7 linked regions of the Homo sapiens genome follow. The protein of the gene in region 6 purifies or fractionates together with the protein of the main gene of each other region. This does not show direct contact. Each region holds a gene or a part of one and is shown on either strand. Other genes may lie near its edges.

Region 1 (3,500 bases), on a different chromosome or scaffold from region 6:
GTTACTGATAAGTTAAGCAGGCACAAAAAATAAAGGTGTAAGATACACCCAGCCTGCCAGGAGCAGCCCCGTATCACGTGACCAGTCCCGTGGGCGACACGGGCGCCCTGCAGGGCAGCAGAGAACCCACCCCAGGATGCCGGGCAGCGACGGAGCAGGCGACTCTGCACGTTCTCCTCAAAGCCCCAAACCAGACCACGGGCATGACCGGGAAGGGCACACGGAGCCCCAGGGTGGCAGCAACGCCACGGTACCCGCTCAGCTGTGCCTCACAACTGGGCCAGCAGGGGCTTCTGCCTGGACGGCTCTCCCAGACCTGGCCCCGTGCAGGGTGGCCCGGCTCTCCCCTCACCTGGCCTTAGCCCGGGTGCCGGGCCCCACCCGGCCCCACCCTCTTCACGCAGAGGCACCAGCTTGGACCCGCCCAGGGCTGAGGCTGCCCTGCTGGCCAACGGCCACACCCCAGACCCAAGGAAGAGCCTCTCCCTGGGACCTGACCGCTCTCTGGTGACCACCTGACGGCCACACAGATGTCTCCAGCAGACCCAGGCCTCAGGGCCAGGCCCTCAGGCACAGGCTGTGCCCTCTCCCCAGGAAACTCTGCCTCACGTGGCCTTCAGAGTACGGGGCAGGCCCCAACCCAGACTCACAGCCTCAGATTCTCTGCAGGACCTAACTGAGTAACGGCCGTGAAGGTGCCGTGACCAGCAGAGCTGAAAGCTGCCCAGGCACAGCTCACACGCTCCCCACCGGACTCCTGGGCGGCGCCTAGGTCAGCAACGGCTTCACCCACTTCCCTCCTGACAGCCACCACCAACCAGGTTGGGCCATGCTGTTAAGACGAACACGTGTGCACACAGCGGGTGTGAGGGCGCACTCACCTGCATGTACTCACGAGCCTACATGAACAGCTACCTGGATGTACTCACAAGCACACGCACAGCGCACTCGTACACACGACACGCACACACGTACAAGCACATGCACAGTGCACTCGTACACACGACACGCATACACATGTACTCACGAGCACACACACAGCACACGTACACACAACATGCACACACGTACTCACGAGCACGCGCACAGCACACTCGTACACACGGCACGCACACACGTACTCACGAGCACACGCACGGCACACTCATACACGACACACACGGCACACTCATGTACACACAACACACGCGCGCACACACAGGATGCCTGAGACCGGTGGCGGGAGCCTGGCTGAGCACTCACTTTCCTCATCCACTTTGAGTTCCTCGTTGAGCCTGATGGCGTCGGCAACCTCCTTCTCGCTATGGCCTTTACTCGCCAAAAACTTCACCTTATACTCGTCCCAAGACACGTGACCTGGAAGAGCAGATCACACCTGTCAGGGCCTCTGATACTGAGCTGAACTTCCTTCTCAACTGAGATGGGGTCTTGCTCTGCTGCCCAGGCTGGAAGCGGCAGGATGCCAGCGTCTGGAGCCCCAGGGCCCCGGCCAGCACCCCACACCCGTTTCCTCACCTGTGAGGCCAGCCGGCAACGTCTGTGCCTCGGGGCCACCAAGAGGCATAGACACCACCAGATGAAGGCCCCGAAGACATAAGAGGCGCCCTCCATGGGCCACGCCCAGTGCTTGGCACACACACCTCTGTCACCAGGATTCTGGCATCATGAACCCAGCTTCCGTGCACCCCACCACACCTCGGGGTCTCCGGCTGACACTTCCCCACCGCCCGTCCCTCAGACAGGGCCTGTCTGCCCTCCAGGCACCAGGCAAGGCCCATGGCCCTGCCCGCCCCGCCCACCGCCCCACCCACCCCGGCCCAGCCACAGTACCGTCCCCGTCAGGGTCCACGGCGCGGAAGTGTGTCTTGCTCTCCTCCATGGCCTCCTGGAAGTGCTCGGCCGTCTTCTCCATGATCCAGCGCTGCATCTCCTTGGCACTGATCTTCCGGTCAGTGTTCACATCCACCCTGCAAGACAGCAAATGGGCAGGTGGCCGTCAGACTGGGCCCCCAGGACCCCGAACAGCCAGACGGATGCCGCCGGCCCAGGACTCCATGGCTGCGTGAACCTGCCACCAACAGCGACAGGCTCCACCAGGCAACGCGAAAAGCGTCCGGGACGTGGGGCTTGTGGGGTGCCGGGCCACGCCAGAGACACTGGGGAAGGTGGATGCCACGGTCCCCTCCCCGGGGAAACACATGGACCCTCCCCCTCTGTCACACAGAATCACCACCAGACCCCACTCTCCAACCACAGCTTCCAAAAGTCACACTCTTCACGTTTTATTTTATTTTTTGAGATGGAGTCTCACTCTGTCACCCAGGCTGGAGTGTGGTGGCGCAATCTTTGCTCACTGCAACCTCCGCCTCCCGGGTTCAAGCGATTCTACTGCCTCAGCCTCCCGAGTAGCTGGGATTACAGGGGTGCACCACCACGCCTGGCTAATTTTTGTATTTTTAACAGAAATACGGTTTCACCATGTTGGGCAGGCTAGTCTCAAACTCCTGACCTCAAATGATCCACCCACCTCAGCCTCCCAACGTGCTAGGATTACAGGTGTGGCCACTGGGCCCGGCCCATGTTTTATTTTCGATGCTTCAGGTATGGCTACACAAAAACCTTCATATAGGCAGGACGCAGTGGCCACACCTATAATCCCAGCCCTTTGGGAGGCTAAGACAGGTGGATCACTTAAGCCCAGAAGTTCAAGACCAGCTTGGGCAACATAGGGAGACCCCACCTCTACAAAAACAATTACGAAAATTCGCCAGGCGCGGTGGCGTGCACCTGTGGTTTCAGCTACTCAAGAGGCTGAGGTGGGAGGCCTCCCGAACCTGGAATGCGAAGGTTGCAGTGAACTGTGATCACACCACTGCACTCCAGCCTGGGCGGCATACCGAGACCCTGACTCAAAACAAGACAAAACAAAATCCTTCATATAAATTTAAGTTGTGAGATTTAGGAAGAAGACCGTGTGGGGACTTAACATTGTGTGCAAGGATGGAAGAGACCACAGACTTGGGGGATAGGGACACAGACTGGGGACACGGGGCCAGCGCAGGCCAGGTCAGGAGGCCACAGGCCCCAGGACAGGTCACTCCCGTCCCAGCTTCAGAGCTCGGCTTCACCATTATGTCTTTGTGGAAGCCACAGGCTCCTACCCCTGCTGCAGCCGCCCGTGTCCTGAGCTCACCTGTTGGAAACTTAACCCCCAGGGCAACAGCACTGGGAGGCAGGGCTTCCAGAGGTGCGAGGTCTTGAGACCCCGGCTGGTGCGTTTGCCGGAGGCATCCCCGAGAGTAGGGTGCCCTGGCCCCTTGCCTCTATGCTCCGCTCAGGGGCAGCCGCGGCCACGTTATGAGGTGGCAAGCAGGCCCTCGTCAGGCAGGTGTGGCCTCTGGGACCTGGGCCAGGCAAGCTTCGAGGGTGCACACACCGCAGGCACGGCTCAGAAGCACTGGGCAGAGATCCTCATGGAAGAAGGCCAGGCTGCCGCTCAC
Region 2 (3,500 bases), on a different chromosome or scaffold from region 6:
GTTGGGACTACAGGTGTGAACCACCACACCCGGCTAATTTTTTGTAGAAACGAGGTTTCGCCATGTTGCCTAGGCTGGTTTCGAACCCTTGGATTCAAGCCATCTCCCTGCCTTGGCCTCCTAAAGTGTTAGGATTACAAGTGTGAGCCACTGAGCCCAGCCTTAAAGAGTTATTTTGAATGGGATCCTATCATACCATATTGACCAAGCTTATTTTAACTGCTACCTATTTTTTTTTTTTCTGTTTGTTAAATCATTCTTTCCCCATAAAACCTCCTGGAATACACACGTTAAAAAGCAAATCAAAAACAAATCAAACCCCCAGCACTTTGGGACAACGAGGCAAGTGCCCAGGAGTTTGAGACCAGCCTGGGCAACATGGCGAAACCCCATCTCTACAAAAAAATACAAAAATTAGCGGGGTGTAGTGGAGTGTGCCTATAGTTCCAGCTACTCAGTAGGCTGATGTGGGAGATCACCTGACCCCAGCAAGTCGGGCTGCAGTGAGCCATGATTGTGCCATTGCATTCCAGCCTGGGTGACAGGAATGAGACCCTGTCACAAACAAGCAAATCAAAAGGTATAGAGAAAATTAAGTCTTCATCTAATTCTTATTCCACTTCCCAGAGGTTAAGTACTATTAAGCTTACCTGTATTCTCAGAGACTGCCTATATATAATTAACTAGCTACAGGGACTTTTTTTCTAAATAAGTAAATGAGCTTATACTATTCTTACTCGTCTGTAACTTTCTTTTCTTTTTTTATCTATTCTAGGTATAATATCCTTGCACATGTACGTTTGTGCAACTGTGATTATGGCATAGGGTAAATTCCTTAAAGTGGAATTTATTAGATCAAATGGTATAAGCATTTTGAATTTGAAAGATATTTGCTAGATTATACTCAAGTATAGTCTAAGGGATTTGGAAAAAAACAGATAATGTGTCAATGCACACACTTTGTGCAACTGTATGGGAACAGCCTAGAATTGCTGGGTCACTGCAGACACATAAAATTTCAAAGATACTGACAAACTGCCCTTTACAAAAATTAAAACAATAGACATACCTATCAACTGTTAGAGAGAGCTGATTTTTTTCTAAGACCTTTAATGTTAAGGTTTGCAAGACTCTTAATCACTACAGCTTTAATTTGTATATGAGTGTGATTAAGTATCACTCATGATGATTGGTCATTGTATTTCTTTATCTGTTAACTACCTTGACCATTTTTCTATCAGTTTGTTAATCTCTTAAAAGATCTTTAATATGTTTCAAATATTTTCCTTAGTGTATTATTTATCTTCTGACTTTATTTAAAGTATTTTTAAAATGACAACTATTTTATGTTAAATTTAGGAACATTTTCTTTTACAGTATCTGCATATTGTTTTCTAAATTTTAGATTGCACTTTATAGCTATTAACATCTCACTACTTACCAAGAATTAATCCCATGACAAATGTTTTAAAGTGAACTGGGTCATAGATCCATACATACACCTAGAAGAATCAAGAAACCTCGGTGCTTAAAAGTTCTAATGTCACATTAGAAAGTAATGCTTAATTCTATATTTTAGGTCCCTTAAAGCAGTCATCAACCTCTTAACATACGAGAAGTAATTTCTAAGGTAAATAAATTCCAAAGATCTTTCCTTCAGTAGTAGTGGTTCTTCTGGCGCTAGAAAATGATTATAGGATAACTATAAATTCTATAAAGCACTTAAGTAAATTTGTATGTTCTTACATACACTTAAAAATTTGTTTGACTGGGCTTGGTGGCTCACGCCTATAATCCCAGCACTTTGGAGGCCAAGGCGGGCAGATCACTTGAGGTCAGGAGTTCAAGACAAGCCTGGCCAACATGGTGAAACCCTGCCTCTACTAAAAATACAAAAATTAGCCAGGTGTGGTGGTGGACGCTTGTAATCCCAGCTACTCGGGAGGCTGAGGCAGGAGAATTGCTTGAACCCAGGAGGCAGAGGTTGCAGTTAGCTGAGATCACACCACTGCACTCCAGCATGGGCGACAGAGCAAGACTCTGTCTTGGGGGAAAAAAAAATTGTTCCATGTGTGCACATCATTATTTATTCAACCAAAACACCAGCAACTGCCAACCTTTTTGTCCCTAATGTAATGATGAACCAGTCTGGGATAAAAGCGCAGTTAAGACAGATTCCAGCCAGGCCCTATTACAGATCTAGTATCACTCAACTCCACACTTTTCTCTCCTGAGAAGACACAAAGATCAATTATTAAAGATCATGCTTGGTGAACATAGTCTCTATGACTGTATTAATTTCATTGCCTACTCCTCCATGGAGGGCCCATAAGCTGGGAACCACTACTTCAAAACTTAATTTACTTTTATCAGGCTCTTATTTTACACAACAGAAATTTACTTCATTCAGATCAGAACTCTGTTTGATCATTCATCCATAAAACTCAGTTTTATTTCTTAGTTTCTATAAATAACAGTACTCTTCCCTCTTATTTCTATATTGACCAGAACTCTTTATTGTCTTTCCAACGTGGTTCTTCAATTTTTAACACCAGAGGTTCCACTTTAACCTCTTATTTTACTCTGCCCATTTCCTTGGGAATCAGATTCACAGATATTACTTCTGCCAGTTTCCATTCTAAAAAAACATGTTTTTTTAAAAAAGATATTTCACAACTTTAAAAGTTATGGAGTGCATGCTGCTTTCTACAGAATAAAATCTAGGCTTCTCAGGATACCAAGCACCCATGCGTTTGCTCAGGCTGTTTCCTTCCCTAACAGACCTAACCTCCTTCCTGGCACGCCTGGCAATCTGCCAGTCATCTTCAAGTCTAAGCTCAAATGTCCTTTAGACCCTTCTTATCCTTCCTGACTAAATTAACTATTCCTACCTGGTGCTTTCACACCATTAATGCTTACCACACTGTACTATATTAACATGTTTAAGTGCCTGTATCTTTGCTAGACCATTAAGAGATTTTATCCTACTTATCAAGCTATTCCCAACGCCTATAAAAATAAAAATTTCTATTACAGTGGTTCTCAACAAGGGGTTCACATCAGTCACCTGAGGACACTTTATTATAGATATATAATCCTCCCCCACAATCCCACTCTAGATAGTCTCATGCAAGTAAGAATTTCAAACACACAACCCTAGGAGCCATGACTTTATAGATGTTACTATTGTATAGGTATAACAGGAAAGGATATATCCTGAAATTCACAACAGTTCAATGCCCAGTATATAACTCATGTTTACGTACTGGTGAAGTGACTGAATTAAGCAGTCTTTATGGAAGGCTACCACCATACAAATCTTCCATTACAAATGATAAGCATAAAGCATCAAGAAATGTTAAAAATTTTAAGCCCCTCAAGTGATGTGTCTGACTTACATTCTGTAAGAGATAGAGACTTGTAGCTATCTCCTATTCTGCTCTTTTTTCTTTGATAATAATGGAAACCCTACATTTCGGCTGGGCAAATAATCATCCTGT
Region 3 (3,500 bases), on a different chromosome or scaffold from region 6:
AACCAAAACAGCATGGTACTGGTACCAAACGGGAAATATAGACCAATGGAACAGAACAGAGGCCTCAGAAATAACATCACACATCTACAACCATCTGATCTTTGACAAACCTGACCAAAACAAGCAATGGGGAAAGGATTCCCTATTTAATAAATGGTGCTGGGAAAACTGGCTAGCCATATGGAGAAAGCTGAAACTGGATCCCTTCCTTACACCTTATACAAAAATCAATTCAAGATGGATTAGACTTAGACCTAAACCCATAAAAACCCTAGAAGAAAACCTAGGCGATACCATTCAGGACATAGGCATGGGCAAGGACTTCATGACTAAAACACCAAAAGCAATGGCAACAAAAGCCAAAACAGATAAATGGGATCTAATTAAACTAAAGAGCTTCTGCACAGCAAAAGAAACTACCATCAGCGTGAACAGGCAACCTACAGAATGGGAGAAGATGTTTGCAATCTACCCATCTGACAAAGGGCTGATATCCAGAATTTACAAAGAACTTAAACAAATTTACAAGAAAAAATCAAACAACCCCATCAAAAAGTGGGCAAAGGATATCAACAGATATGTCTCAAAAGAAGACATGTATGCAGCCAATAGACACGTGAAAAAATGCTCATCATCACTGGTCATCAGAGAAATGCAAATCAAAACCACAATGAGATACCATCTTACACCAGTTAGAATGGCGATCATTAAAAAGTCAGGACACAACAGGTGCTGGAGAGGATGTGAAGAAATAGGAATGCTTTTACAATGTTGGTGGGAGTGTAAACTAGTTCAACCATTGTGGAAGACAGTGTGGTGATTCCTCAAGGATCTAGAACTAGAAATACCATTTGACCCAGTGATCCCATTACTGGATATATACCCAAAGGATTATAAATCATGCTACTATGAGGACACATGCACACATATGTTTATTGTAGCACTATTCACAATAGCAAAGACTTGGAACCAACCCAAATGTCCATCAATGATAGACTGGATTAAGAAAATGTGGCACATATACACCATGCAATACTATGCAGCCATAAAAAAGGATGAGTTCATGTCCTTTGTAGCGACATGGATGAAGCTGGAAACCATCATTCTGAGCAAACTATCACAAGGACAGAAAACCAAACACCACTTGTTCTCACCCATAGGTGGGAACTGAACAATGAGAACACTTGGACACAGGGCGGGGAACATCACACACCTGGGCCTGTCGTGGGGTCAGGGGATGGGGGAGGGATAGCATTGGGAGAAGTGCCTAACATAAATGATGAGTTGATGGGTGCAGCAAACCAACACGGCACATGTATACATACGTAACAGGCCTGCACGTTGTGCACATGTACCCTAAAACTTAAAGTATACTAATAAAATAATTTAAAAAAGAAAAAGATACTTGCACACGCATGTTTAAGCAGCACAATTCAAAAGTGCAAAAATGTGGAACCAACTCAAATGCCCATCAATCAACGAGTAGATAAAGAAACTGTGGTATATATATACATGATGGAATACTACTCAGCCATAAAAACGAATGAATTAATGCATTCGCAGCGACCTGGATGAGACTGGATGCTATTGTTCTAAGTAAAGTAACTCAGGAATGGAAAACCAAACATCATATGCTCTCATTCACAAGTAGGAGCTAAGCTATGAGGATGCAAAGGCTTAAGAATGACACAATGGGCTTCGGGGACTCAGGGGGAAAGGATGGGAAGGGAGTGTGGTGTATACTGCTCAGGTGCACAAATTGGGTGCAGTGTATACTGCTCAGGTGATAGGTGCACCAAATTCTCACAAATCACCAGTAAAGAACTTATGTAATCAAACACCACCTGTTCCCTGATAACCTATGGAAATAAAAAAAATTGAAAAAAACAGAAGACAAAAAGCACTGGTAAAGATAACTATGTAATTATAAATGATATACATGTATATTTCTTCTCCTTAACTGATTTAAAAAGAAAAAGAAAAAAAAGTCCCTGTTTGTAGAGAATCCACACAGTTAACTTTATGTTTCCTGTCACAAGAAAGACTCTAAGACCCTCACTCAGAGCTCTTTGCTTTTAATAGACATCTCAAATAAAATTAGTTACCTGGTTTCTCACCCACAGATTAGAAATAGAAAACCAAATAAGATTCAGGGGATATCAGAAGCCAGCTAACAGTGAAGTAAAAGATGAACAGATAAATGAACAGAAAGAAATAAAGATGTACAATTCTAAAAAGCAATCAGAGACATTTCTAAAAAGCATTGCAGTTTAGGTCATTTAATCTGGTAATTCTCAAACTTGTTGGTCTCAGGACCTTGTTCTTGTAAAACTTTCTGAGAACATTAAAGAGCTTTTTTAGTGTAAGTTTTATACATATACATATAAAAAGTTATAAATATTTATATAAAGCTAAAACAAAGTGTTTATTAATTCATTCAAAACAGTAAACCCATACCACTTATTAACATAAACCTACTTTTTATTTTAAAAAACTATATTTTTCAAAAAAGAAAAAGTTTAGTGAGAACAGTGCCATCAGGGTTGAATCTCTTTAATATCTAGTTTAACAGATGACAGCTAAATTCTCTTATCTACTTTTATATTCAGTCTGTTATGTTGCTTTAAGTATATGAAGAAAATCCAACTTTACAAAGATACATAGTTGGAAAGGGAAGAAGTATTTTAATAGCCTTTTCAGATCATTATTAATATTCTTTAATACCACATTAAAACTCAACAAGTGGTCGTTTCTTAAAAATTAGTTGCAATGAACCATATTGCAGTATACCTGAAACCATATCATAAAATTTTGTACACTAAATTAAAATCCATTAGGTCTTTTACCCATGGTGATTTGACATTTAGAAAATATTGGTTCTCTGAGTTATGCAGACTTTCCAAATGCTGACACATTTCCTTGTTAAAATATCAAAAAGTGATATTTTAACAAATATGATCACCACCAATTTCATAAGAAGAGTCTATAAGCACTGGGAAGCTGTCAAGCTCACCACAGCAGCAAATATGTTTTACAAAGTTTCAACCTTCACTTAAATTTTTATCATGACTCACAAATAAATTAGTTGCTCTCCTTGAAGAAAAGGTTCACTTCATTCATTTTCAGGAAAATGTGTACCAATTATCCTATTCTGAATAGTCTCTGTGACTGTTATCCTTTCAAGTAAAAATGGTATTCCACGAAAAAAGCACATAGTTCAGCTCACAACTCAAATAATGTAAGTGCTTTTCCTGAGACAACCATCATACTTCAGTAGGCATCACACAGAATATTTGTAAGATGCATACTTAAAGGTAAAGATTTAATAAAATTAATAATTTTTACTGCTTCATCAAGGACAAGATTAAATAAAACTGGCACTTTTTTTTTTAACTGCCAATGCATGGCAATGAAAATGCAATGACACTAGTAGAGTCTGCTAACATCTTGATCCATGTTATGGCACCAGCAATTTTATGCATCATTGTTATTCACCAACA
Region 4 (2,155 bases), on a different chromosome or scaffold from region 6:
AGATTGGTTGGGATTGTTTTGAGGACATTAGTGACAAAAAGATATGACTCCTTTGTTGATTAATAAACTAAGCATTCTGAAGTATACAGCATGCCAACAATATGCATCTTGTCCTAGACTTCCTACAAATCTATAGAAAATTCACTGCCTGATTACTGAGATCATACCCTAAAATGATACATCAGAAGGATGTAGATATTTTTGTGAATCTGGACACATATTAAGCAAGATAAAGGTGTGATCAACAATCCAAAAAAAAAAAAAAAACTCTAAAGAACCTATATTCTTATATGCCACAAATTTCTGAATATAGAATCACTTCTCATAATGACTGCATTTAAAATCTTTTTTAAAAAAATGATTTTTTTTTTGAGACAGAGTCTTGCTCTGTTGTCCAGGCTGGAGTGCAGTAGTACAATCTCAGCTCACTGCAACCTCCATCTCCTGGGTTCAAGTGATTCTCCTGCCTCAGCCTCCCAAGTAGCTGGGACTACAGGCGCATGCCACCAACCCTGGTTAATTTTTTTGTAGTTTTTAGTTGAGACAGGGTTTCACCATGTTGGCCAGCCTGGTCTCGAACTCCTGACCTCACGTGATCTGCCTGGTTTGGTCTCCCAAAATGTTGGACTAACAGGCATGAGCCACCGTGCCCAGCCAAAAAAAAAGATATTTTATTGAGCCTATAGTCCTAGCTACTCAGGAGGCTGAGATGGAAGGATCATTTGGGCTCAGGAATTTGAGACCAGCCTGGACGACATAGCAAGATTCCACTTCCTGCTCCCCCAAAAAGAGAGAAAAAAAATGAGGCTTTACCGAATATTTTCTCTATTTTATTGTTGGTCAATAATGTAATAAGACTTCTTAAAAACTTACCATATCAACCAGAGCAACATACATGAATAAGCCAGCAGTAAGTGCAAATATCCACATAGAAACATTTTCAGCATAATGACCAATGAAAATTCCTGTTGCCATTCCAAGATACGCCAGCATGGCTGACAATGCATTATAAAGGACAGCCTGCTTAACGGTCATGCCAGCCTTTAGTAGAACAGCAAAGTCACCTTTAACAGAAAACAAAAAAGGAGGAAAAAGTCATTGAGAAATCATTTTTAAGACACATACCAAGATACTTCCCAGATTTAAGAAAATTTTCCAGTGTTTTTGAGAGGGGGAAAAGAAAACAAAATTAAGAATGACCTAGGGTTAAAGCAGTGTTAGTAAATCACCCTAACAGCTGTAGAAACTATTGTTTTTCCTTTTTATTCTTCATCATTCAACTTGATGTACAAACTTTTTTTTTTTTTCTTTTTTTTGAGACAGTATCTTGCTCTGTCACCCAGGCTGGAGTGCAGTGGCACCGATCTTGGCTCATTGCAACCTCTGCTTCCTGGGTTCAAGCCATTCCTGTGCCTCAGCCTCCTGGGTAGCTAGGACTACAAGTGCATGCCACCACACCTGGATAATTTTTTTACTTTTAGTAGAGACGGGGTTTCACCATGTTGACCAGGGTGGTTTTGAACTTCTGACCTCAGGTGATCCCCTTGCCCCGGCCTCCCGAAGTGCTGGGATTAAAGGCGTGAGCCACTGCACCTGGCCAGATACCTTAACCAAAAAAATTTTTTAAGGCTTACACTTTGTCAAAATGATAAACACTAAAAATTTAATATTGTGGTCTTGCAGTGTTTTCAAGGAGCTTGGAATTTGGCCACAAAGAAGGGAGGAATGGGTGGAGAACACACATGAGATGATCAGCAAATGATAATGGTAATGCATAAAAAACAGCTGAAGAGTTCAATGCTACAATTATAAAAGGAGAAAAGAGACACATGAAGATGGAAATAAGAGAGGGGCTTCATGGGACTTGAATGTGGAACATAGATGCTGAAGATGATAAGGAATGGCTGAACATATAACAAGGAACAAAAGTGAAAATGGCATCAGCGGTATGTGTGTGAATATATCTCCAAAACAAGAAAAACAAGGACGTGAACTGGGATCCAGAACTTGGGAAGGTTTTAATGCCTAGTGACAAAGAAGAACAATATTGAAAACACAACTCATCCACTTCCCTTCAATTCCAATGAGATTCTCTTTCTCAACTTTTGTTAATGGAAGATGATTCCTTTGTATCCTGTAGTCTTATTCACCTTGT
Region 5 (3,500 bases), on a different chromosome or scaffold from region 6:
GTGGGTGGATCACAAGGTCAGGAGTTCAAGACCAGCCTGGCCAAGATGGTGAAACCCTGTCTCAACTAAAAATACAAAAATTAACCAGTAGTGGTGGCGGGCGCCTATAAACTCAGCTACTTGGGAAGCTGAGGCAGAGAATTGCTTCAGGCTGGGAGGCAGAGTTTGCAGTTAGCCAAGATCGTGTCACTGCACTCCAGCCTGGGCAACAGAGCAAGACTCTGTCTCAAAAAAAAAAAAATTTACTCAGGGCCAGGTACAGTGGCTCATGTCTGTAATCCCAGCACTTTGAGAGGCTGAGGCAGGTGGATCACTTGAGCCCAGGAGTTGGAGAACAGACTGGGCAACGTGGCAAAACCCCCCTCTACAAAAAAAATTAGCTAAGCATGGTGGCGTGTGCCTGTAGTCCCCGCTACTTGGGAGGCTGAGGCAGAAGGATTGCTTGAGCCCAGGAATCTGAGATTGTGGTGAGCCAAGATTGCACCACTATATTGCAGCCTGGGTTACAGGGTAAGACCCTGTCTCAAAACAACAACAACAAAAAAACAAAACAAAAAACCAAAAAAAACCAGTACTCAGAATGAGAAAGAGAAGGAGAAAGCAAATATAGTAAAAATGGACATTTGGAATATCTGGGTGAAAGGTTCTTGTATCTTTTCTGTAAGTCTAAAATTATGCCAAGATAAGTAAAAACAAAACACCTATTTTCTTTTTACAGTTCTTCCTATTTTTCATGGATTTCTGAAAAGGCAGAGACTAGAAGAAACTTGTTTAGCTATCTCATTCTGCTCATTTAGGGGCTCTACTTTTAAAATTAAGATGGTAAAAGGAAAGCATTTTACCCATAAGTAAAAGAATGCTTCCCTTTATGGACCACCTCTCGTAACAGATGTTTTAGAAGAAAGACCTGCTTTCTTATCTGAACATTTACTGCCCTTTCTGAATGCCTAATAGACTGTGTTTATTCCAGGTATATGAGTAGACCAGTGATGAGTGGCCCAGGACTCTATGACCCTACAACCATCATGAATGCAGATATTCTAGCATATTGTCAGAAGGAAGGATGGTGCAAATTAGCTTTTTATCTTCTAGCATTTTTTTACTACCTATATGGGTAAGTTGAAAAGGTAAAATGAAATATGCTTTCACTTTGCTGCTTTAAAAGTTTGCAGGCATTATGGTTTTCACACCTCAAAATCCATTTGAAGAATAACTTAGTGTCTTAAGTGTGCATGGTGCACACCAGCAAATTCGCACACATTCAGTGTGGCCCACACTGGTGCTTGTCAAGGCAGTAAACCAGCCTGCCATCAGAGGCAGAAGGTTTGGTCAGGGATGCTGCTTCATAAGTTTTCAGACACATTCAGTCAGTAAAGGATGGTCCTCATTCTCCATGGCAAAGTGATGTCATTGAAGGATAGGGATGTGTGAGTTTGCAGAAATTTCTGCTTGTCTTCAGGGTCTCTCCAGACATTATGTTTCATTTTTTCCTTATCATTCTTCATAAGTGGTGTGCTCTGCCCTTTATTTTCTGATTTGCTTGATTTGAGTGGTATGAATGAAAGAAGTAGTTCTACCTTACAGGGTGGTGCAGTTTCCGATTTTTGTTCTTTTTTTTTGAGTCGGAGTCTCTGTTGCCCAGGCTAGAGTGCAGTGGCGCGATCTCTGCTCACTGCAACCTCCGCCCCACCAAGTTCAAGCAATTCTCCTGCCTCAGCCTCCTGAGTAGCTGGGATTACAGGCGTGCACCACCACGCCCGGCTAATTTTTGTATTTTTAGTAGAGACAGAGTTTCACCATGTTGGCCAGGTTGGTCTTGAACTCCCGACCTCAGGTGATCCGCCCACCTTGGCCTCCCAAAGTACTGGGATTACAGGCGTGAGCCATCGCGCCCAGCCTGATTTTTTTCCTTTTATACTCTCATGGACTCATTGTTCCTCTAGGTCAGGGTGTCTCAGCTTCGGCACTGTTGACGCTTCTGGGCTGTGTGGGAATTTCTGTGGGAAGCTGTCCTGTATATCATGGGACGTTCAGCAGCATCCCTGGCCTTTACCCACTAGTTGCCATGAGCACCCTCCTGCCCCCTCATGACAACCAAAAATGTCTCTGGACATTGCCAGATGTCCTGAGGGGCAAAATTGCCCTGGGTGAGAACCACTGCTGTAGGTGTGTTGTAGGTGCAGTGAAATGACTGCTTATTAAAACTAGAAAAGGACACTGTTAAATGTAGAATTATATATTTCTTTAAGCTATGTGAATATACTTTTACACATCACTTATATAAAATACTTTCTCATTTTTTATTAATACATACTCAACTAGAGAGGACTTTCTCCTTGATTTTCAGAATATTTCCAAAAAAGCTGTAAGCTTTAAAAAACAGCATAAGCTTCCCTTCTCTTTTTCATTACTTGAAAACTTGCTAAGATAGGCTTATATTCATATTCATATTTCTCTTCATACATAAGTTTCCATCATAGAAAAGATGAATGGTTAGACTGAAATTTAGGAAAAAGGTATTTTTGGTATTTTTATGCCTTTAGAGGCTATTACTGTGAAAATGAGTATCCTTTAGTGCATATGCAGATATTACTCATCTATGAAACAAAGAAGTGCTCTGAAAAGTGAAATTCTATGTGTCACTTTAATTTCCTGTTAATTTTCATTTCATAAGTTTCCATAGCAAATGTCTGGAACGGGCTGGTGTATGATAGGCACTTCATACGTATTTGTTGAATGAAAGAAATGAAATGAATGATTGAATAAATGATAAAGTTGGAGATGTGCAGTTGTGGGAAAATGTTCAGCAGGATATGGTAGCACCAGGACATTTGTTGTGTTTTAAGGTTGTCTATCAAGCTTGTTCAACTCCTTTGTATTTCTGTTTAGAGTTATGTGCTTTTTGAATCATGCCCCTATGCCGTTCCCATAGCACTCTGTAGAATTGCCCTTGGCAGTTCTTAAACCTAAATCAAAAGGTCATTGCCTTTTATTTTGCTGTTTTCCCCCCTTTTCTTTTTTAACCACTTCCTAAAAGTTGCTATTGCTTAGATCCTTTCTGTAATGGGAAAGATCCTTGATTGATCATTCCTTTCTATACAATGGGGATACACATGGTACCTGCCTTCTAGGACTCCTTGAAGGATTAAGCAAGGTAATGTATATAAGAGACCTAACAGGGCCTGGCGTGAAGTGAGCCCTCCAGAGATACTCATTCTATTATTAGACACAACTCCAGAGTGTGTGATGTTTGGATGGCTTCTCTAAGCTCTGATCCGCCATTAAGCTTTCAGCTGTGCCGTTCTACTTGCTAAAATTGGAAGGGAATAGGGGACAACTACAGCATATGCACTGAGCCAAGTCATATGTTAGGCAAAAGTCCATAAATGCAAATTAAAATCACTGTGAACTTGTCATTAGTCTTGTCATTTTCTGTGATACTAGTTTGCTATATAAAGCATACTCTCTCATGCTCTGAGTTTTTTTTTAATAATTAGTAA
Region 6 (3,500 bases):
TGACAAAATATGAATTTGAGCTCAAAATACAGAAAAATATGCCTATCATTAGGTGTGTTTTAGTCTAATATACATGACAATGTTTTACAGGATCATACTTACTTCACAGTCAACAAGATAAATGTGGTACCTCCTGTTGCAGAGAACAAAGAGTTTATGACTTGAATTGCAACATAGATGAAAAATTTCCTTGTACAAGTATTATCTCTTGGGCATTCACCCAAGTGTGCTGAGTAATTTCTGTTCTGGAGACCAGTTACTTCCACACAACTACAGTTATAAAACACCTAAAAATAGTTTTTGAAATATTAACAAATACATTTGCCAAATACAACAGGGCTATGAATACATTCCATTATATTTAAAGAAGTCTCAAACTAAAATATTTACAGTTTAAAAAATGTTATAAAAATATAGTTGCTTAATAGTGAAGGCAAAATAGCTCCCTGAATTTAGGAATTTAAGAAATTAGTGTATGAAATTCTGTATATAATTTTTTCATTAATATACATTATTTAAAATATTTCTCTTCCACCTACATTTTCTTTCCAAAATACACATTCTTACTCTCTTTGGCAGGTTCTAAGTATTAGGGACTTACTCTGGGAAAGAACTACCAAAAGAATCCAGAAAATATAGTTTGAAACGGGACAAAACTTAGCCACTCATGAAAATGGGACAGAGTGCAGAGGAAATAGAGCCAGGCAGTGGTGCCAGAATTCTATTTAAGCAGGCAAAAGCAACATTCAAGACCATAATGACAGGTGACAAGATATAGTATATTATTACCAGAAAGGTTTAACACAAAAGAATGTGCTGGCTAATGGTTAGAATATAGAAGAGGAATATTAGGAACAAGTAATTTTAGAGATCAGGCAGGCAGTGTATGTGGTTAGGTGGCTTTAATAAATTCTGCTCTGATTCTAGGCTAAAGATTTAAGTTCATCTTGAACCTACTACTGCTGAAGACTATTTACTGAAGGAGAACTTGTAAAAGAATTGGCCAGGCGTGGTCACTCACACCTGTAATCCCAGCACTTTGGGAGGATGAGGCAGGCGTATCATGAGGTCACGAGTTTGCGACCAGCCTGGTCAACATGGTGAAACCCCGTCTCTACTAAAGATAAAAAAAAATTAGCCGGGTGTGGTGGTGAGAACCTGTAATCCCAGCTACTTGAGAGGCTGAGGCAGGAGAATTGCTTGAACCCAGGAGGTGGAGGCTGCAGTGAGCCGAGACCATGCCATTGCACTCCAGCCTGGGTGACAGGGTGAGACTCCATCTCAAAACAAAAAAAAGAATTTAAATCCATACTCGTATGGTTCAAGAAAGATTCCTTTTTTCCTTTTATTTTTTTTCAATAGGAATAACATGGAGGAATCTTTTATGGAGCAAGCACATTGGCCAATGAAACCCAACTTTGATACAGAGAGCATTATTTTAACAATTTTACTGAGGATTTAGTAAAGGAACTTTGCAGTAGCCCCCACATAGCATAGCCATTGCCAATATTAAGATGATGTCTCCATGAAGACAGAGCTCTCTTTAGGATACTAATATCACCTCTCTTTCAGGTCTTCACTACTGGACAACACAGGACCAGGGATTAAATGGGGTACTCTTACTGAAAGATACTATAGCTGATGAATATGAGATGTGGGCTTTTAAGTATAGTCTTTGGGCCACAAATGTGCAAGTTTACTAAAGTTGTAGCCTATCTTCAAGGAAACTAGGAGGCTTTATTCTTCAAATTTCTCCATGCCGTTTAATAATACGTTGGTAGGATATTGGGCAAGGGAAAGATAGAAAATGTTTAGAATTGAAGCATGGAAGAGTGTGGTAGAGAGTCATAATCGCAGCTGACTATATTGCTAATGTTGGTAATAGGGAAAGGGCCTGAAAAATAGTTATGCAACTTGTGAGATGTTGAATTGATTGTAGGTATGGGGAACAGCATACCTAATTTCCAATCATTGGGAGTTACCCAGGATATTGGGAAAAACAGGATATGTGTCACATGGAAAAAAAAAAGCCTTTGAGTTAAGAAAGAAATGGAATTTCCAATGGATATGTTGGCAATCAGTGAGTAGGATACTAAATTATACTGAGTAAAAGAAGTGCCAGCTTTGGGAACATCAAAATAGGAAATCAAGAATAGGGAATTCAAGTGAACATGAAGACTTGACTCATTTCTTGGAAAGTCCAAGGCCACAGTGAGTCCCTAGCTACACTTATCAGTATGTATATATTAAAATGCAAATAGATTATTGTTCTCGTAAAGCAGGTAGTGCTGACAACAGGCTAACTCTGAACTTTCCCCTAACTTCCAAAGGGTAAAGTAATTCCAAATAATAAAAATCATGTGCTTTAGTCAAATGAGATGCTTCTTAGAGACCCTAAATGCATTCAAATTCTAACAGGTCATATTCTTAAAATCTCAAGAAAAAAAGTGGGTAATCTCTAATTAGAATTCAAGTAACAGAGAAGTCTGATTGTGTCCTAAGCAGAGTTTTATATGAAGCTTTGTTTACACTTCACAGCTATCACGAGGACAGATAATACTGGAATCTTTTTGTTTTATCTTTTTATTGGAGACCTTAGTTATAGGAAGATTTGATAAGTATTTATTAAATCAAATCTGTGATTTTGATTAAGGAGAGGAGAAAAAGTGAAAACTAATACTCACTGTATGCTTTTTAATACCACTTGAGGATTTGCATCCTGCTAGACAAGGTGACAGGTAAGTTATTCCATTGTTCCCACAGACTGGTTCCCACTGACTTTCATCACAATTGCACTCTGAGTTGCAATAAGAAAGTGGTACATCTACATGAGATGCCACTGAATTATTTCTGAAAATATATGATAGAAATATATCAAAAAAAGAGAAAGAGGAAGTAGAGAAAGAGCAGAAGAGGGAGACAAGGGGATAAGGAGAGGGGAAATAGAGGAGGAGGAAGAGAAGAGGAAAAGAGAAGAGAAATAAGAGAAAGGGTTTTCCTTTAATTAGATAGAGAAATTTGATTTGCTGATGTCAAAATGGCAATTTTTGTAATGCTTATTGACTTTTAACTCTCCTTCTTTACCAAGACATGACTTATGACCTAGAAAAAGTAAAAATTAAAAAAGAAATAAAAGAGGTTAGATAAGACTTAGACAAGAGGTCTTTATCATTCTATCAATGAAACTTTACATTATATAAGTAACTTCATTTTTCTGAGATTCAGTTTCTCTTCAGGGAGGTAATGGCATTAGATTGAGGTTCCTCTAAGCTCACTTTAAAATCCTCTGAATCTATGCATGTTAGTTAACATTGTTGAATTTTACAATCTATATTTTAACTACATAAAAAAAAAGATTTCAATGTAGTTAAAACCAAACCTCTGAGGAATAAAAAATCAAGAATAATAGAATTAGTTGAAAAAGGATAAAAAATCTCTGCATATTTTCTGAATAAAACTATAATACTGTTTATACTGATTTACTTTATAATATAATTATA
Region 7 (3,203 bases), on a different chromosome or scaffold from region 6:
GTCCTGGGATTACAGGCATGAGCCACCATGTCCAACCTCAGATCTTTTTAGATGCCTCAGCACCTTTGGGCATTAATGAGGAAGAGAAGTGTGCTTCCTCAGGGAGCTAGTTCCAGAGGAAAGAGGGTTTCAGGCTGTATTACTGAGTGTGACAAATACGTCGGAAGGGCCCCGCTCTGGATGATTGTTCTCACTCAAGAGAGAAAGCCTAGGTAATGCTCAATTTCCAGCCCTTCCGTGCTGGGAATGGACCATTCTGGGAACCTATCTGGTGAAAGGAGATTTGACCACGTATATCACGTACCCACTATCAAATATTAAATTAGTTTACAGCATAATATACTGCATACTGAAAGGGCCAACTTTGATTTATTCTTCCTCTGAGGGTTCAGGAAATGAAGTCTTGAATAGGTCATCATCATAAACACCAGTTTTCATCATGTCCTTTTGTTGGTGCAGAAGGGATTGAGCTGGGCTGAATTCATAATGGCCTCAGCCTCCCAGGACCACCTGACCAGGTTTCCAAGTGATTCTTATCCTTAGAAAGTTTGGAAAGGCTTTGACTATTTTTGAGTTTGGGAGATTCTTGGTTGGCATAGATTTACTATGCTTTTGGAGAAAGAAACATTGGAATGTTCTACCCAATGGGTTTATTAGACCATTGATGCCCTGTGAAACAACTGCTTTTGTTTATTCCACTTATTTGAAAAACTCCTTTGAAATATTTGATTTCCTCTGGCTCCCGATTGGGTAGTGGTATAGTATGATCCTGTATCCAAGAGTAGTCCCTAGGGGCAGGGAGCTGGTGAGTTGGCCAAAGCCACCATCTTTAGTTTTTCTAAATGATACAGAGCTAGTGTTTCTTGCCTCTTTATCTCTTTTCTCCTTTTTTCTTTCCCTTTTTCCAGGCACAAGAAGAAGAATACCTGTTCATTCTTCAGAAGGACCCAGATCTCTTTCAGCGAGGCCTTCAACTTATGGCAGATCAACCTCCATGAGCTCATCCTGCGTGTGAAGGGGTTGAAGCTGGCTGACCGGGTCTTGGCCCTAATATGCTGGCTGTTCCCTGCTCCACTCTGAGTGGAATTGCTCTCCCTGCCCCATTCTGGTGTCTTTCCACTCCTCAGCCCCTCATCTTGCCTCCACCCAGCTGCTCCATTTTTGCCACATCGTGGCCCGCAGCCCCAGAGTCACTGTCCATGTCACCATCCTTCTCCTCCTTTGGAATCCTCTCCGCACACTGTGGCCCTTGTCTCAGGGCCCACAAGCTGAACTGTGGCATAGCTCTCTCTTCTTCTCCAAGAAGACTCAGCAGCCTACATTCCCATTCCTGGTATGTGCCATTGGGTTGGATGTCCCCACTACTTCCGTTAACCCTTCCCATTGTCAAGATGTGCCACGGGTGCCACTGGGGGCACACTGAACTTGTAGGGAGTGTGATTTTGTTGGAGGTGCACATGGTCTCTGAATTTGACAGAGAACACCTTCCCTTTCCTTGCCATGTCACCCTCCAGAGGAAGTCACACCTCAGCGAGGTGGTTTGGCATCTGGGGCCAACTCCATTACAGCTATGAGCTCACTGCTGTCAGTGACGTTTGGTGTTTTCTGTACTGTGTTTCAATAAAAACTCCTTCAAGGTTGCAGGATTTGTCCATCATAACTCACTGGCCTCCCACCTGACCCCAGGCACGTGCCCTTCCAGAATGTGCTCATGGTCCTCGCCAAGGGCTTATGGTTCCTCTTGGTTGCTGCTTCCTCAGGGTTTCCCAGGGAGATCTAGGGAACAGAAGGCCAGGGGCTGTTTGGTGGGATTTTCCTTATAGGTTGGGAGTTCACCTACAATGCCCATTAGGTCAGAGTGGACCTGAATCGAGTATTGGTGTGATCTTCTGCTTGGCTTCTTGCTCCTGTAATCCTTCCAACCTGTGGGGCCACTTCCACTATGGGGCCACTTCCTGCTTCTTGGGGGTTTCTCTTACCTTCCAAGACTCAGACTCTGGTTGGAGGAGTTAAGAAGCCCAAGGCCAGGAACTCAGAGGCTCAGCTGAAACCTTGGACCTTGTTTTTCTGTGACCTGGGTACCAACCTTGTTCTACTGTTTCCTGACTTATCCCTTTGGTTCTCATTCAGTGGCCCCAGTTTTAGGCCTGGAATTCTACTTGTCTCCCCCCAGTCCTTCTGGAGACCTTAGTCCTCTTGCTGAAACCTCCGTCACTGTGGCTGGGTTTTCACTGGGAAACTTCTGTGTTTCTACCCCATTGCTTGCTGCCAGCACTGCCTCTCCCCCCAGCCTGGTTGTCTGCTTCTGTTTCTTGGACATCCCTAAGCTCCTGCTCTAATTCCCATGTCTTTGTCTTTGGCAGGTCCTACTGTCTGCTTTCACGGACAGTAATTGTATTTGAGCCTCTCTGATCTTACTTCACCCAATTCACAAGGGCAGAAAAAATCCTGAATTTGAGCCTAATTTTCTGTACTCTTTATTCATAGTACAGCAAGCAGATTTTTCAGTGATCAGTGACAATTCACAATCCTTTTATTTCCCAAAAGAATTAATTGTTCTTAGTGACCAGTTGGATGCACCCAGGGACCTGAGAGTATAATTTGCAATATCTGATTATTAATCTTGAGGATGTGTGCTGCATAGTATATTTTATGGTGTCTTTTATAGCCACTGAAGTAAATATAAATGTCCTTTCTGTTCAAGGTCATGGTTACTTGCTTTTTAGTTTGGGTATGTGTAATGGTTGGCTTCGTGCTGTCCTGGGATCTAAAACATCAGCATGGTGCCAGTGGGCCCAGCACCCAGAACAGTTAGCTGGGGTGAGCAGAGAGGCAAGAAGAGTTGGGAGTATGGGACTGTGTGAAGATAGCAAGGGAGGAGGTAGATGTTTACTGAGTGCCTTCCATATGTGAGAGTCTGTGTTAGGCTCTGCAAATATGTTACATCATTGAGTTTTCCCATCCCCTCTGTGATGGAGGGGTTATTAGCCTCATCTTACTGAGGTGGGAACCAACGCTCAGAGAGGTTTAGTAATTTGCTTGTGGCCACACAGCTGCTGAGTAGTGGCCTGTGGTTTTTAGTTTTTTTCTTTTAAATTATACAGTGCTGTAGAGATGGAATACATTTGCTCCTTGGGCTGTCTTATATGCCTGAGTTTGGGTCTCAAATGTCCTGAATTCAGAGGAAATTGGATTTACAGGAG

Evidence for each region.
Region 1: the proteins of SLCO1B3 (region 6) and SDF4 purify together in Homo sapiens (affinity purification with mass spectrometry; one large-scale study listed by BioGRID and IntAct). This does not show direct contact.
Region 2: the proteins of SLCO1B3 (region 6) and SEC62 purify together in Homo sapiens (affinity purification with mass spectrometry; one large-scale study listed by BioGRID and IntAct). This does not show direct contact.
Region 3: the proteins of SLCO1B3 (region 6) and FAM114A2 purify together in Homo sapiens (affinity purification with mass spectrometry; one large-scale study listed by BioGRID and IntAct). This does not show direct contact.
Region 4: the proteins of SLCO1B3 (region 6) and SLC39A6 purify together in Homo sapiens (affinity purification with mass spectrometry; one large-scale study listed by BioGRID and IntAct). This does not show direct contact.
Region 5: the proteins of SLCO1B3 (region 6) and CNIH1 purify together in Homo sapiens (affinity purification with mass spectrometry; one large-scale study listed by BioGRID and IntAct). This does not show direct contact.
Region 7: the proteins of SLCO1B3 (region 6) and ADCK1 purify together in Homo sapiens (affinity purification with mass spectrometry; one large-scale study listed by BioGRID and IntAct). This does not show direct contact.

Annotation. Positions count from the first base shown.
Region 1 is NC_000001.11:1,222,002-1,225,501, forward strand, and holds part of SDF4 (45 kDa calcium-binding protein isoform 2 precursor), read right to left. Parts: intron 1,968-3,500; coding exon 1,831-1,967; intron 1,357-1,830; coding exon 1,243-1,356; intron 1-1,242. UniProt on the Homo sapiens protein: May regulate calcium-dependent activities in the endoplasmic reticulum lumen or post-ER compartment. Isoform 5 may be involved in the exocytosis of zymogens by pancreatic acini.
Region 2 is NC_000003.12:169,983,807-169,987,306, reverse strand, and holds part of SEC62 (translocation protein SEC62), read right to left. Parts: intron 1,503-3,500; coding exon 1,442-1,502; intron 1-1,441. UniProt on the Homo sapiens protein: Mediates post-translational transport of precursor polypeptides across endoplasmic reticulum (ER). Proposed to act as a targeting receptor for small presecretory proteins containing short and apolar signal peptides.
Region 3 is NC_000005.10:154,021,911-154,025,410, forward strand, and holds part of FAM114A2 (protein FAM114A2), read right to left. Parts: intron 1-3,500.
Region 4 is NC_000018.10:36,110,186-36,112,340, forward strand, and holds part of SLC39A6 (zinc transporter ZIP6 isoform 1 precursor), read right to left. Parts: intron 1,065-2,155; coding exon 874-1,064; coding exon of another isoform or gene 862-873; exon of another isoform or gene 809-861; intron 1-808. UniProt on the Homo sapiens protein: Zinc-influx transporter which plays a role in zinc homeostasis and in the induction of epithelial-to-mesenchymal transition (EMT).
Region 5 is NC_000014.9:54,427,875-54,431,374, reverse strand, and holds part of CNIH1 (protein cornichon homolog 1), read left to right. Parts: intron 1-970; coding exon 971-1,114; intron 1,115-3,500. UniProt on the Homo sapiens protein: Involved in the selective transport and maturation of TGF-alpha family proteins.
Region 6 is NC_000012.12:20,880,205-20,883,704, reverse strand, and holds part of SLCO1B3 (solute carrier organic anion transporter family member 1B3), read right to left. Parts: intron 2,851-3,500; coding exon 2,685-2,850; intron 288-2,684; coding exon 103-287; intron 1-102. Other genes in the region: SLCO1B3-SLCO1B7 readthrough transcript protein, read right to left, coding at 103-287, 2,685-2,850. UniProt on the Homo sapiens protein: Mediates the Na(+)-independent uptake of organic anions.
Region 7 is NC_000014.9:77,932,312-77,935,514, forward strand, and holds the end of ADCK1 (aarF domain-containing protein kinase 1), read left to right. Parts: intron 1-908; coding exon 909-1,080; 3' UTR 1,081-2,703; downstream 2,704-3,203. UniProt on the Homo sapiens protein: Appears to be essential for maintaining mitochondrial cristae formation and mitochondrial function by acting via YME1L1 in a kinase-independent manner to regulate essential mitochondrial structural proteins OPA1 and IMMT.